Linked DNA regions of Homo sapiens: region 1 is linked to region 2. Evidence: fine-mapped expression QTL. A gene starts in region 2. The other region holds a variant in brackets. All regions are shown on one strand. Distances are between the middles of the regions. Region 1 overlaps ACAP2 (ArfGAP with coiled-coil, ankyrin repeat and PH domains 2). Region 2 holds the start of ACAP2 (ArfGAP with coiled-coil, ankyrin repeat and PH domains 2).

The links. PIP is the estimated chance that this variant, and not a neighbour inherited with it, causes the effect.
Region 1: its variant is the best candidate, but not a certain one, in a credible set for the expression of ACAP2 in skeletal muscle (GTEx, PIP 0.58).

The regions. Positions count from the first base shown.
Region 1 is chr3:195,282,858-195,288,092 of GRCh38, reverse strand. It overlaps ACAP2 (ArfGAP with coiled-coil, ankyrin repeat and PH domains 2), which reads left to right. Exons shown (of 23, transcript NM_012287.6): 22 at 2,236-2,297. Among named protein-coding and RNA genes, the nearest start is that of XXYLT1, 14 kb to the right of the region's middle. The variant G/A (reference allele first, on the strand shown) is at 2,031.
Region 2 is chr3:195,440,384-195,445,618 of GRCh38, reverse strand. ACAP2 (ArfGAP with coiled-coil, ankyrin repeat and PH domains 2) reads left to right here and starts at 2,599. Exons shown (of 23, transcript NM_012287.6): 1 at 2,599-2,824. The coding sequence starts at 2,772. RefSeq lists silencers at 2,235-2,734, 2,855-3,074, 3,095-3,144 and enhancers at 2,556-3,055, 3,595-3,684.

The DNA.
Region 1 (5,235 bases), 160 kb after region 2:
AGTTTTGCTCTTGTTGCCCAGGCTGGAGTGCAATGGCACGATCTCAGCTCAGCAACCTCTGCCTCCCGGGTTCAAGCGATTCTCCCTCCTCAGCCTCCTGAGTAGCTGGGATTACACACATGCGCCACCACGCCTGGCTAATTTTGTATTTTTAGTAGATGAGGTTTCTCCATGTTGGTCAGGCTGGTCTTAAACTCCTGACCTCAGGTGATCCACCTGCCTCAGCCTCCCAAAGTGCTAGGATTACAGGCGTGAGTCACCGTGCCCGGCTAAAATGGTTTCTTTATCTCTTTGTATAGTACTAGGGCAGAGGCTGGGATTGTTAGACTAACAGATAATTATTCTACTACCTCGAGAATTAGAGGATTCTCTAATTCTGTAGGCAGGATAGTTGCATTGATATTAGTAATTTGTGAAGTTCCATTACCTTTGGGCAGTGGTAGGAATTTGTGCTTGTTTTTAAAAAGAATTATTCACATAAAGCTAGGTGCTCCCACCCATAATCCAAGCTACTCAGGAGATTGAGGTGGGAGCGTTGCTTGAGCCCAGAAGCTGGAGAAAAGCCTGGGCAACATAGCGAGGCCCTGTCTCTACAAAAAATTAAAAATTAGCCGGGTGTGGTGGCACATGCGTGTAGTCGTAGCTACTTGGGAGGATGAATGAGACCCTGTCTCAAAAAAAAAAAAAATTATTTACGTGAATACTTGATTAATTTTAAGATTAAAATGCATGCTTCTGAATGTTTGAATAAAATGTAATGTGATCTTTTAAATAATTTTGAGGTCTTAATTTGATTTACATCTCAGATCAAAGTAGTTTATTACACATGGAATTCAGAAAATTAATCGTCACCGATACCTTATTATGTAGGAAATCTCAAGCATGTTTTGTATCGTCACTTATTCTTTATCACTTATTCACTTACCCTGGGCTAAATGAAGCCCATAATTGCTTATCCCCCCTCATTGGAGAAGAAATAGGTCCATCCACACTCCTGAGCTCCTACTGAGAATTCTTGACTTGTCATATGTCACCCCTCTGCCAAATAAAATAACAAAACAGCAAAACATACTTTCTCAGATCCTTTCCCCACAGGAGGGGTTACTGTTATTATGGAGGCTATTGCAGGAAAATGTAGAACTCTTAAATCATTACAGATTTACAGTAGAAGAAAGATAAGTTATTAAAGAAAAGATAGGAATGATATAGAGAGACAAGCTCTGCAGGCAGCTTCCCAGGCAATACCTATATAGCAGTGGACCCTTCCCTTAAAAATAATCTGTTTTCAAATCGTCTAAATTTTCTTGTTTTACTTTGTGTGAGTGCTTCAGTTTCACTTAAGAATTTTTGTAAGCATCCTCTGTGAAAACCCAAATGCCAAAGGAAGATTTGTGGAACTGTTGTTAATACACACAGTGGTTGAGAGAGAAGATAAAGGGAATTGTGGAACTTTGAAGATAGGAAAAGTTCATGTCACACGCTGCAGTTGCCAGAGAGAACATTTCAGAAGAGGGTGATGGAGGTCTGAGAAGGCAGTGGAAATTTGGTGGCCCAGAAGGACGGACGAGAGGTACAGAGTAGGAGAGGGGTACCAAACACAATATTTGCCTATTTTAAAATGTTGCTTAAAGGAAATACTTAGCTTCTTAATCTAGTGCTACATGTCATCTGCTGCCAAGATGAGTAACCTAAAAAGAATGTATAAGCAATATGGTAATGTTAGGAAATTCTTGGTAACCTATAGTCATTTATTATAATGTTTGTATATCAAAATATATTCCCAGTGTTTAGAGGCCACACATGCTGTTTATATGTCTGCAGCTACCTCACTTCAGGGTGAGCCAGAGTGAACTTATGACAGGTTCTCACTTCTGCACTATAGAAGCAATAATTTCAACAGTTGGCAGTTAAAATTTGACAGGTTGCTGTAAGAGCCAGGAATTGTCAGGCATCTGGAGGAAGCAAGCCACTAGAGGTATTGCGGGGATGCTGCTGCAGTACAGCTAAAATGCAGTCGTCAGAAGATTTTT[G/A]TTGTCCTTTCTTATGAGAATTGTATGAAGGTGAGATACTTATCTTTGTACCTCAGATTGCTGGGTTTGATAAACTAAAAGCCAGATTATTTTAATGGCAAATAAAACACAATTACATTAGTACATGTATTACCTGTTTATAGACTTTATTTATGACATTTATATTATATAATGTCATCTAAAACACTATTTTATTTATTTTTAGGTTACGTTTAGCAAGAATGAATGAAGAGATGCGGGAATCAGAAGGACTTTATGGACAGCCAGGTCAATATTCTACTAATAACCATACTGAAATGCAGTATAAGAAATGCATTCAGGAATTTATCAGTTTACAACTGGAAGATTCATAGTTCTTTAGCAAACTAATGTGATACTATAGAGTTTTTATAACCCACTTGTAAATTGTGAGTTGTTAGCTTTGTACTGTACTTAACTGAATCCTTGGGTGGCTAATCCCGGGCCTTTAAACATTCGTAACTCTTCCTATGACAGTACACATTGACTTGCTCTATTTCACTCTGGCTGCTGACTTCTTTATTTGCTGTACGGATGTCTTCCATATACATTCCAGTGAAATGAATGGAATGGTAAAAATATTCTTCATATACTTACAGCAGCAAAATAGTTGTTTTCTTTTTGGAATTCTTTTTAGCTGTCAAGTGAATATAACAAAATTGTTTTCTTTTTGTTATTCAGGGAATTTCTATAAATTACGTTCAGGGAAAAAAAAAATCACCATGTGTCTGGCATATAAAAAGCCAGTATGGAAAATACCAAGAAAAAGTTTACTGATGAGTTTTGTACTACAATCTAAAAATGAGTTGAAGATTTAAAATGAAAATTCACCAGGTGGAGAAGTCCATGATGTGAGTGGAGCTAGTTTGAAAGGCTGAGGGCAAAGGTCTCATTTTATCTAAAGCTAAAGCTTTGCCTCCAGGCAGTTGTACATTATCTCTTAGATAAGCGGAAGTATTTAGAACAATACTTTTTGCACCTGATGGCAAAGTAGATTTATTCTACTTGAGAAATTTCAATTCATGATCACCTCAAGTTTCATTTTGAGTAATTTTCACCTTTGAATCAAGATGTCAAGGAAGAAGTATCAGATTCTTCTCTTTGAAGAACACGTTGATTAGACGTTCTTCACAAAGAAGAGAGTAATTATTGGTTTTCTTGTTTCATGAATTTGAGTATATGAATTACTCATCTGTCTGTTTTAAATTTATATACACATTAGTAAAAAATTTCATGAATTCGTGACTAAAATACTTGAGAATATTCAGTTTGCAATGAGTAGGTTTGGTTTTTTAAAAATGAATATTGATACATTATTTTTAAAGTGACCTGGTAATATCATCTCTTCTTCCTGTTTAAATACATTTTGAAATTTCTGTACTTCAGCCATTTATTTTAACGAGATTAATATATAGTTAATGTGAGGCCGTTCTTTCCTCAGAGGACCGTATTTACTACTGCTTATTTTTGGCCTAATTTAATGTGGAACAAGTAAGAACGTTAAGAATAGAGGCACTTCAGCTAGATATTTCTAATCTAGGGTGTCCCACTTGAATCCTATGGATCATACAATAGTAGGCGGCTCATGATGTTCCGAGATGGAAGAGTGCTGATGAAGGGTGAAGCTCTAGCGTTCATTCTGGATTTCACCCATTTGTTTCAAACTTGAATGTTAGATTTTAAATAGGTTATAATTTTATAACAGATATTCTTAACTGATAGTATTACTAGGCCGTTTTTGAGGCCTTTGTGTTTAAGCACTTTAAAATAAAAATTGTTTAAAGAATATGACCTGATATTTGTAAGAGAAGAGTGAACCTCACGATTTTAAGTTAAACAATTATTTTCCCCCTGACATTTTTAACTTCAGTGTTTGGTTAGCTGCTCTTTCCTTACGGTGTCTGCTGATGAAGTTCACCCAGCTGATTAGCCAGGTGGTCAGTGGTCGACTCTTCTCTGGAGTTGGGAAGCTTGAAAGGAAAGGGCCTCTAAGTTCTTGCCACTTCTAGTTCCACCCAAATTGTTTGGGTGTCTGCCACCATCATTTAGGAGCATTCAAATGTCTTCCACTGTCATTTTTGAGTTTATATATACATAAACTTAAAATGTATAGAAAAGATTTTACCAATTTAATTTAATGAAAACTTGAAAAAAAAAGCCTCATTTTAAAACAAGCTCTCTTACCATTCTCACATTTTAGTTTAGAGGTTAAAAAATAGACCAGAATTCTGGAAATAGTATATCAGAATAAAATTGAGATATTTCTGATTTATTTGAGGATCATCTTGAGAAGGGTTAGATTTTTAACTCATTCAGAGGGCCTAATATTTAAAGCAGGATGATTTTATGCTTAGACAGGGGACATGGTGAAATGGCATAGCAATTGCTCTTCGGTTTCTGTTCTTTTTCTTTATGAGACAGGTATGTTTGGCTCAGGCAGCGGCTGTTTGTTTTTCCTCTGCTTATCACTGTACATTTTTCTATCAAATGCTTTGGTTGCTTGTTTTATTGAGATCCTTTTTTGGTTTTCTTAGCAATAGAATGAAAACCTCAGAACTCTGGGTAAATTAAATGCAGGTATTTTTAATCTTTTGATAATGAAGAGCTCTTATCCTTTAAAAGATTCAGATGTAATCTTTGGCAATCACTGATTTATTTCTAGGAAACCCCACTTGTGAACTTTCTATCTGTACAACCCTAGGGACCTGGGACTCCCTGTTTCTTGCGTGGGGTGATTGAGAGCACACGTTTTCTTCAAAAGAAGGTGTGTCTCTCTTTGGCAGTCCCAGTAGCCCTTAGGAGACATGGGTGGGTGAGGGAAACAGCACACTCTTCTCTCAGTTGTTGGAAACCGGTTTGGTGGTTCCCACAGTCTCTGGCTCTGTGACTCTTCTTGATCGTTGGCAGGCTCTCAGCCAGTTGAGAATCATCACTGCTTTAGGGACCCGCTACTGGTTATGTGAGTATGTAGCAAGCACAAGTTGGGAATCGCTGATCTAAGTAATTATGAAAGTAAGCTGTTACCCACCCAGAAGGGGTAAGGTCGTGCATAGGATGACCTGGGGTGGGTCTCATGTGCTGCCGTCCCTGTGAGGTGAGGGGAGTACATTTCAAGAGCAAAATTAGCAAACTCTTGAATCATCATAACTGCTGTTGTGGTAGATATTCTGAATACCAAAAATTAAAA
Region 2 (5,235 bases):
AGGCTGAGACAGGAGAATCACTTGAACCTGGGAGGCAGAGGTTGCAGTGAGCCAAGATTGTGCCACTGCACTCCAGCCTGGGTGGTAGAGCAAAACTTCTTCTCAAAAAAAAAAAAAAAGATGAGGATAATAATATTGTATTTCTTTTATTCTAAGACCCACTGCTCCCACCCCATCCCACTTTAATGTTTCTTTATTTAGGACCTATCTTAGAATTGACACCCCCAAATGCTTGCTTTATCACAGGGCAAGGAAGAAAAATTGTGACAGTGTTATCACTAACTGGGTATATGCAAATTTAGCCATCCACAGAAAGATGTTCACTTGGTAATTAGCTTAGTTATTTGCCTTTGTGGTGCCATGCAGTTGAATATTAATTTGAACCCCAAAGTGTCACTTTAGGTATCTTCTAAAAGGCTACACTGTGATTAAGTATTAAAATAATAAGTTATTGTATATGCAGATTAGCTGTCACACATCAGGAACGCAACCAAATATAGTAGAGATTGCCAACTGTCTTGGTAAATTTGACATTGAAGTTACAATGTTAGGGAAGGTTGGCCTGACCACTAATGTGCTTGAGGACCCTGAACATTTAACAGTCAATAGTCTGTTTTTAGCTATCAAGAAAAGCTGTGTGGTTTCCAGGAATACACAATTAAAAAAGAAATCAAGTTTATAAGCAAAGAATAAATGAATATAATGCTTCTATATTCTCTGAAATGCCTCAGAATTATACTGTTAATTTTCCTTTTTCCTTTTTTTTTCTTTTGATACAGTGTTTTGCTCTGTCTACCCAGGCTGGAGTGCAGTGGCACAATCATGGCTCACTGCAGTCTTGACTTCCTAGGCTTAAGTGACCCTTCCACCTCAGCCTCATGAGTAACTGGGACTATAGGCATGTGCCTGGCTAATTTTTTGTATATTTTTGTAGAGTTGTAGAGACAGGATTTCACCATGTTGCCCAGGCTGGTCTGGAACTCCTGGAGCAAGGAATCTGCTCACCTCGGCCTCCCAAAGTGCTGGGATTACAGGTGTGAGCCACCATGCCCTGTCTATACTGTTAATTTCTAAAGATGCTAAAGAGATCAAGATATCTCTTGATGGGTTACGAAAAACAGTATGTCATCACGCTATACTTAGCCAGACGGTCAGAAAGTTATATTAAGACTTTAGAAGGCTGGGTGTGTGGCTCACACCTGTAATCTCAGCATTTTGGGAGGCTGAGACAGAAGGATCACTTGAGGCCATGAGTTTGAGACCAGCCTGGGGAACGGAACGAAATTGTTTGATTGTTTTTGAGACAAACAAAAACTTCAGACAGTGAAAGTGAGAGAACTTAGACTTAAGCCCTTTGATTATAGTACTGAAGAGGCAAATGGTACAATTAAAATAGCCAACATTTACTGAATGATCGATATGTGGCACTGTGTTAACCGGACAACTTCATCAGATCTGTGTGTTATGTTCATTTTAAAGTGAGAAAGCTGGGACCTAAATCCAGGAAGTTTGCCTCCAGATTCTCACTCAGAGCCACTATGCTGTTAGAACACCCTGTATATTCATTTTTATAGATACGCCCGTGTTTTTTAGGTTGGCTTAAAAATTACTCATTACATATAAGACATCTTTGTACTTTTTACAATCAATGGCATCTTAAAATGAAGGAGTATGGTAAATACCTGCCGTGAGGATCAGATGATAAGTATCTTAAAGTGCTTCTAGAAAAAGTGTGGATTAGAGGGGCAGGTGTTGCAAGGTGAGTACGATGAGCCTGGTCTTCAGAACCCCACCATGGCAGAACAGTGAAAACCACCAGGAGCAAAGTGTCAGTGAGGGGGAATGCTTTCGGCAGTTTTGAGAGGAGTTCCTCCACACGAAGCACCCTACCTCCCATACCTGCCTAAATCTTTCTATGTCCAACCCAAACGGCAGCTCCTTCAGGAAGTGGTCTCTGGCTATATGAGAAGATGTACATGGGAGCAATTTCCAGATTATGAAGCTATGGAACAAATACATGAAAGATGGATTTTATCACTAAAGTTATCCTCGCTCCTCTTCTGGCCTCAGTTTCTCTAAACTGAAAGGAATAGGTGGCTTAGCCTATCTCTTCCTTTTATAATTTCTGCCTCTAACCTCTTCAGATTTCTGCCAATCTGCTTTGAAAAGCAAATTTCCTTCCTCAGACCTGCAGGAGACTGCTCCTCTGGGCTGGCAGCTCAGCAGGGCGGGGCTCGGGGAGCAGGAGAAGAGGCGGGGGCTCGGAGGGAAGCGCGGCCGCAGCCACGTGACTTCCTTCCCAAGGAACCTCAGCTGCCGGCCTCCCAGCAACCGGTGCGTCCCGCCTAGCGACGCCCGCGCATCCCGGTTGGCCCTCGGGGGCGGTTGTGGCAAGGAGGTGCCCACGGTCGCGCTGCTCATTGGCTCGGGTTGCCGTCGCTCAGACCCGTTGCCCGGGCGCCCGCAGGCGGTGCTGCCGGATGCCCCGCCCCTTGGCCGCCAGGTTCGTGGCTGGCTGGCCGCTGCTGTCACTCCCCGGCCGTTTCCCTGCGGCCAGCGCTCTACTTGGGGCGGGAGGAAGAGGGGCGGGACTGGGGCCTGACTAGTCGTCGCCGTCTTCGCGGCTGCTATGACCAGCGGGCGAGGCGCCCTTCGCAGCTCCGCGCAACGCTAGTCGCGGCCGTGCGCCCGCCGTAGCCGTCTGCGTCCCAGCGCGGCCGCTCCCGCGGCCCCCTCGGCTTTGCCAGCGCCGCCTGCGAGGCGGAGGCAGGATGAAGATGACTGTGGATTTCGAGGAGTGTCTGAAGGACTCGCCCCGCTTCAGGTAACCGGCACGGCCGCCCGGCGTCACCGCGGAGCTGCCTTCCCGGCGCTGGGGGCGTGAAAGCCGGGCCCGCGCACCCGGAGGAGGCCCCGCCGTCCGCTCCTTCCGACGGGGCGAGCGGCTGTTGCCGCCGTTTCCCACCCTGCGAGGGCACTGCAGTCCCCACCGAGCCCTCCCGAGGGGCGACGAAGTGGCGGGGACGGGGACGTCGCCTCTCATTTCTTTCCTTGCCCTCTGCCGGGGCGGAGCGCCCCGAAGGCCGGCGCACCCTCTCCCGCTGGGGGAAATGGGGTGCAGCCGCGCTCCCGAAGTCCCGTCCCCTTCGCGGGCGCTCGCTCTCGCCCCCTTCCTCCTCTGGCTGCTCTTCCTTCCCCCTTCCTTCCGCCCCTTCTTGGTTTCCACCCCCTCCCCACCCCCTCTTTGAGGGAGCTTTCAGGGCATCCTCTTGCAGTTCATTTAGTTCCTCTTTGCGCTTTTCTGCCCCCCTTCCCCGGGGAGGAGAGAGTAGGGGGCGAACTGGGACGCCGACTTCTGCTTCGCGGTGCCCCCGGCCAGAGCGACTCTCCGGAGGGCGCCCGCGGTGGATGCGTGCGGGAATCGCGGGGGGAAGCGCTGTGATCAACCGCATTCCGTGGACCCTAGTTGGTGACTACCTGCTTTTCTTTCCACTTAAGCTCGTTGAAGGGGGCACAGCTGTCGAGAGGTACCGGGCTGAGGGCGGAGGACTAGCAGAAAAGTGCATTTCTGTTTTGAGAACGGAAGTAGGAGGGCCGTGAAGATTGCCTGTGTGTTCCTCTTCCAGCAGCCTCTGCCCAGGAGGGCCCGGATCACAGTCGGATGCTCCCAGTGGATCTGTCACAGAGTTGACATGGGGGCACTCCGATTCACATGGGTTGCCCTTCTTTCTATGTGAGAGGCGGTCGTCCTGAGGCCGTCCAGGACACAGGTTCTTTCTGTTTTGAGGATAGTAGGAAAGTCTTGAGTTGTTTTGGACAATGGAGTTTTTCTAGGTTGCGTTTTACAGTGTATTTATTTACAGGGCTGGTCATAGTCCTTACAAATATAAGGCCTTAACACTTCCGTTAGATAGTGACATTTCTTGAAGCTTCCTCTGAGCACTGGCGTGTGTGTGCCCGCTAATGTCTGGGCCAAGCCTGGATTGTAAATTGCATCCTCTGCCTGGGAACTAACTGTTCTCATCCTTAACACTGTTAATTGGATTTCTTATTCTCCTTTCAGCGAAAAAGAAAAGAATTGTAAAACTAAGGAACTGCTACTTAGAGAAAATTTAAGAACGCTTTTTGCGTTTGCCCTTTGATGATTTTTGGGTATTAATTTTATTGGAGCCTAGGGCTATTATTTAAAAAAACCCACTTCCTTTGATAGCTGTTGTTGCGATTCATTTTTGAAACTTTTATGTTCTGCATTATTGAAGGACTCAAGAGACACAAATAGATTTCCTAGGACAGGCGTGCAGGTTGGTTTCCAGGACAGCATGGCAAGTGGAGTAATTTTTAAAGTGCACCTTAGAAAGTTCAGCTTTTTGTGAAATTTTGTTACTATGACTCAGCTATTTATTTTTAAGTGAAATAATCACAGCATTTTTCCCTTAGAAGATGTAGCTTTGAACTCCCTTTGTTTCACATTAATTTTTTTTTTTTTTTAAGTTGAGAGAAGTGATTTGGAAATACTTCTAGCTACTGGGGTTGGTCACAAACCATGTGATGTCTTTGTTTTTGAAATAAAGAAATCATTGAATATAAAATAAGAGGGCAACATACTGATTAAGTTGTAGGGAATATTATAGTGAACTTTTGTTAAACTTGATTGTAACATAAATTCTATGTTAATTAAAATATTACAGGTTTTCAGGAGTTGTTTCCCATATTCCAATTATTGTTAGCTGCAAATTGGGAAGAGATGCCAAAATTTCAATAACTTCAACATCTTATATACATTTTGGGGACAAATTAGATTTGCAATAGAGGGAAGACTGCCGAGAAATAGAAGTTTCATTATTCATATTCTTAATTTTTTATAGTTTTTCCATAATCCTATTACTATGAGGATCTGTATAGCATTTGAAAAGAATATTTGAGAAGTCTTCATTCACATGTTGTATGTATAAGAAGAGCTTTACTTTTGAGAGTATTGTGTATGTTGAGTGATAGTGAAACTTGTATCAAAATAAAAAGCTTGTGAGGCCTGGGCTTGTTTTTTGGTAGTAAGGCAGCTGCACTTGTGTCCTGATCTATTGGGCTGTCTTTAAATTAATACGTGTCTTTATTCATAAATGAATCTTGTGGCATTTAAGTCTAGTGTGTGCACATAACTGTCTTGGTGCTGTAGAATTAATGCAAAAGGCACATCTTGCTGATGAAAATTTCACCACTGTTCAAGCTTTAAACATC